Regions from separate parts of the Homo sapiens genome. Here region 2 is linked to region 1. The links come from fine-mapping of genetic effects on gene expression. Tissue or cell type: whole blood. Region 1 holds a variant in brackets; the other region holds the start of a gene. All regions are shown on one strand. Distances are from middle to middle.

Region 1 (2,763 bases):
CAAGTGATTCTAGTGCCTCAGCCTCCCTAGTAGCTGGGATTACAGGCGCATATCACCACGCCCGGCTAATTTTTGTATTTTTCATAGAGACGTGGTTTTGCCGTATTGGCCAGGCTGTTCTCAAACTCCTGGCCTCAAGTGATCCGCCTGCCTCAGCCTCCCAAAATGTTGGGATTACAAGCATGATTACAAAGTGTTGGGATTACAGGCATGATTACAGGCATGATTACAAAGTGTTGGGATTATAGGCACCTGGCCCGGGAATTAGCTAATATTCTTTAAGTATTATTTCTATTCAATTGTCTTCTTTCCTTATGGGACTACAATTACGTGTATGTTAGGTCATGTCACTGTTTCCATTCTTTTTTCCCCTTCTCGTAAGCCTAGAGATTTTCTAGCAACCTATCTTCATGTTCACTTGTATTTTCACTGTCCAGTATCCAGTTATTTCTAATTATTGAGTTTTTAATTTTAGTTTTTGTATTTTTTATCCTAAAATTTACATAGATTCAAATTCTTATGTTTTCATCTGTTTTCTTGAGTATATTAACTACTGTTGCAAAATTCCTGTCTGATGACCGTCATACCTAGATTGTCTGTGAGCCTGTTTCTGTTGTTTTGTTTTTGATTATTTGATCCTTTTTCCTTGGGTGCCTGGCAATGTTTTATTAACATTGTGATGAAAAATTATAGAGAATCTGAATTATGGTTATGTTTCTCCGTATAGGATTTAATATCCTCTGGTGAGTAGTTAGAAAAACATTGATTACTTTGATTCGTAAGTGACTGATAAGACATGAGCCTGAATTCAGGGCAGTCAGGAAATTCTGATAGCCTCACTATTGGTGGACTACTGGTGTATAGCCCTTAGCTAAGGTCTCAGTTGAAAGTTTGCCATGTTTACCAAGATACCTCTTCCTTGGCAAGTCCTGAATTTCAGGTATCATGAGGCTGATGAAAGCTATTTTTAAAACCTCTTTTCAACATCTTTTTGTTGGGATTTTCTGAATTTCAGTCCATGCTGTTTACAATTCAGCACATTCCTGGAGAGGAAAAGTTGAACAGAATATTGGGCCCCTTTCTTTGAGGTTCCTTTTTATTTTCCTGAGATCCTCAATTCCTGGCCCTTTGGTGGTACAACATCCACTTTTTGTGTCTTCCCAGCCCAGTGAGATTCATACAAGTTCTGGGATGCTGCTTTCTGCTTGGCCTTTTGCTCTGTACTGGTAATTGGCAAATACCTCAAGGGGGAATTGAAGGGAGATCTTCAAAGTGTTTCCCTTCTCTAAGGGATCTTGGCTCCTCAAGTCCTGACCCTTGGTTGTTCTCC[G/A]GAAACCTTCAAATAGCTGGGGATTTAGGGGCATTTTATATCACTTTTATAGTTGTTTTCCATGGGAAATTTGGTCTGATATTGCTGTTCTCTCATAGGTAGCCTAATTGCCTTTTCTTTTCGTACCCTGGTTTTATTTTATTTATTTATTTATTTATTTGTTTATTTATTTATTTTTGCTGTTTTGTGCTGTAGAATTGGCAGTCCTCTCTCTCTTTTATCCTTCTAGTTGCTAAGAACTGCTAAAACTAATTACTATGTTACTTACCATGGCACCATCAGCCAAGCAGTTGCTTAAGTCAGACGTCTCTTGGAGCCATCCTTGATTCCTCTCTTTTCCTCATTCTTTATATTCAGTCACTTTCAAAGTATATCTAGAATCCATCTACTTCTCTTCATCATGCTACCAACCTAGTTCAAGTACCCTCTCTCTCCTGGACTATTGTATTAATCTTGGAACTAATCCTTCTACTTTGATTCACATTCCCTGTAGTACCTTTTCCAAAAATACCTTGAGTGTTTTCCATTGAAGAATAAATTTCCATAGAATAAAATTACAAATCCTTTCCTTGGGCCTTCAGGGTCCTGCATGATCTAGCTCCTGTCTAACATGACTATGTCATCTCATTTGATTTGCTATGCTTTAATTGTATTGGCTCCCTTTCAGTTCCTCAAACATGCTACAAGCCCTATCCCACAGCAAGGCTGAGTCTTTGCCTTGGATATTCATCAATATACTTTTTTTTTTTTTTTTTTTTTTTTTTTTGAGACAGCGTCTAGCTCTGTTGCCAGGCTGGAGTGCAGTGGCGCGATCTCAACTCACTGCAACCTCCGCCTCCCAGGTTCGAGTGATTCTCCTGCCTCAGCCTCCCGAGTAGATGGGACTACAGGCACGCACCACCGCACCCAGCTAATTATTGTGTTTTTAGTAGAGATGGGGATTCACCATGTTGGCCAGGATGGTCTTGATTTCTTGACCTCATGATCCAGCTGCCTGGGCCTCCCAAAGTGGGAGCCACCCACTGGGAGTTACTAGGATTACAGGCGTGAGCCACTGCACCTGGCCTGGATATTTATCAGCATACTTCTATACCCTCTCTGCATCACAGAGTCTTTGCTTAGGATGCTCATCAGTATACTTCTATACCCTCTCTGCATCTGCATGGGTAGTTTTTCTTTCTTCAGAGAAGCTTTTCCTGACATCTAAAGTTGAGAGCCTTTACTCCCTTGGTTTCTGTTGCAAGACCATATTGATTTCTTCTGGAGCATGTATCACACTTTGTAATTCAGTTATTTGTCCTCCCCAGTAGGCCATAGATTCCAGGAGGGTGGAGATATATATATATATATATATATATATATATATATATATATATATATATATATATATATATTTATATATATATATATATTTATATATATATATATATTTA
Region 2 (2,500 bases), 240 kb after region 1:
ACACCGTCCACTGTTTTTCTGTTTTCCTATAAGATAGAAGAAGGATGGCATTATTAATTTATGCCCTGTTTACCTATCCCAAGTCCCAGATCACTGGATCTTTAAAGATTATGATTCTCGCTTGGCTTTTGGTACAAAAGGAGACAAGGAGGGAGCTTAAAAGGTGAGCACGGTGTGATTCAGGACTGAAGCTTCTGCCACTTCCTGGGGGGTAACTGCAAAAGTGAGCCGTTCTGACTAGCCGTTTGTGCATTTGCCACTGCCAAGGGGGCACAGGTAGATTCAAGCTTTGGGGCTCTTCTGACAACTGGCAAGGATAAGGTATTAGCAAGGGCAAAGGAATAGTAATAAAATAATCCAATAACAAAGACATGAAGATTTATAATAATTTTTAGGCCGGTGCAGTGTTTCAGGACTGTAATCCTAGGGCGCTTTGGGAGGCCCAGGCGGGAGGATCGCTTGAGGCCAGGATTTCGAGGTTAAGGTGAACTGCGCTCCAGCCTGGGCAATAGAGTAACACCCTGTCTCTAAAATGAAAAGAAAACAGTTTAAACCTTTTAAGTGCATACCAAATCTTTTATTTTGGAGAAGGAAAACTGGTCTCGAGTTCCGTGTGAGCTCCCTGGGGCCCGCCGGGAGGGGGTTGGCACGGCCGGACCTGCAGCACTAGTTCTGGCCAGGGCGCTGTGGGATCTGCAGGGGACCACAGGATGCTGTGGCGCGGTGCGCTCAGATTGGCGGAGAAACGGCCACACGCCTACGGAGCTACTGAGAAGGCGAGCGGAGGCGCAGCCCGCCCGCCCGCCGCGGGAACCCCAGGTTGGGGCGCTGGGCGCGCGAAGACTCAGCCGCCCCGCCCACCAAGGGCGCGTCGGTCCCCGGCCGCAGCCTCTGGGCTGGCAGCCGCCGCCGCGCCGCGCTCCCATTGGTGCCCGGCGGTGACGCGGCCGAGCGGGCCGGGGCTGCCTGGTCCGGGGGCGGGCGTGGGGCGCGGGGCGCGGAGCGCGAGGGGCGGGGGCCGGGCGCACTGCTGATGAAACCTGGCGCCGGAACCCGCCAGCCCTCGGCGCCCATTCAGTCCGCGCAGGCAGGTGTGAGCAGCGGGTCAACTACCTGGCAGGCGCGCACGCGGCCGCGGGCTCCCGCTAACCGCAGCCTCCACTCCTCTCCCCGCGCGCCGCGCCCCCGCCCCGCCCCGCCCCGCCCGGTCTCGCCGGCCGAGCGTCCGTTGGTCCTTGAGCGCGTCCGACAGTCTGTCTGTTCGCGATCCTGCCGGAGCCCCGCCGCCGCCGGCTTGGTGAGTGCCCGGCCCCGCCAACGCAGGGGGCAGCTCCTTGGGCCCGGGTCATCACGGAGGGGGCCCTGGCGCCGCGTGGGGCCGCGGCAGGGCGGCGCGGGAGTGGCGAGGGCCCCCGCGCCGGGAACGCTGCCATCCTCTGGGAAGGGCCAGGACCAGGGCCGGGCGGGCCCCGGAGTGGGCGAGCGGGGCTGGTGCCCATGCGACTGTCGCCTCCACGGAGTCCATTTTGGCTCCCTGAAACCGCGGCGTGGTGCATGATGCAACACCGAGTGAGTAAGCGTGGGCGATCTGGCGATGCCCGCTCCGCGCGCCTGTCCGGGGACCCGCGCGCCGCTACGCACGGGGTGGTCGGGGTGCGTAGGCGGGCGGCGGGCACGGGGGCCAGACTGGGAGGCACACGGAGCCCGCCGGCGGCGAGGAGACCTTCCCTTACATGGCGCGGTGCAGAGCACCCCGCCCCGCCACGAGGTCCGGGGATGTGTCATCAGCCGTGGGTGGGGACTCTGCCCGGCCGCCCGGAGGGTGGTCCCGCGGCAGGTGGCCGGCCCAGGGACTCTGCTGCCATCCCCGCCCGGTGGCCGCCCTGACCTAGGGCGCCTGGCTCTCCGCTTGTCCCTAGAACCCGGGACGCGCCGCCTGCACCTCTCGTCTGGGTCCCCAAGATTGCTTTGAGGAAGTCTCCCCTAGGTGGGCTTCCTTGTGACCCAGTGTGGCCTGGAAAGGCCGGGTTCCTCAAGCCCTCCACATGGTTTGGAATGAGAGGAAGTTCTTCCGCCTTTAGCAAGACACCGTATTCTCAGGGTGTTCCTTTCTGCGTAGTAGAAAACTTCCCAGGCATGGGCAGGTCAGAGTCATTCTAAAACCTGCGCGTACACAGAGCGGCAGCTGCACTGTAGTACTACAACAGCCTGCTGGTTCAGCTCCTGACCCTTTCCAGGGGATGGGGGAACCAGACAGCAGTTGTGTTTGACTTGTGTGACTAGGATAGTCAGACATGTGCCTTCAGGAAAAAAATAAATAAATAACCTACATTTCCCAATACTCACGTCATCACCGCCATGCCCTCATGTGTTGGGTTTTAGTCCAGACATAGTTACCAGATGGTTGAGATTTCAATCCCAGGTGTATCTCCCTAAAGAATGTGCCTTTTATCTTACTTACATTCGACTAGTAGAATTGTGTATGTCGGCCTCTGGCCGA

What was found. PIP is the estimated chance that this variant, and not a neighbour inherited with it, causes the effect.
Region 2: it holds the start of SLC7A1, and the variant in region 1 is fine-mapped to the expression of SLC7A1 in whole blood (TOPMed, PIP above 0.99).

Annotation. Positions count from the first base shown.
Region 1 is chr13:29,835,087-29,837,849 of GRCh38, reverse strand. The region is part of intron 1 of UBL3 (ubiquitin like 3); the gene reads left to right. Among named protein-coding and RNA genes, the nearest start is that of UBL3, 14 kb to the left of the region's middle. The variant G/A (reference allele first, on the strand shown) is at 1,331.
Region 2 is chr13:29,594,213-29,596,712 of GRCh38, reverse strand. SLC7A1 (solute carrier family 7 member 1) reads left to right here and starts at 1,025. Exons shown (of 13, transcript NM_003045.5): 1 at 1,025-1,297. RefSeq lists silencers at 659-1,898, 2,067-2,361 and an enhancer at 2,009-2,138.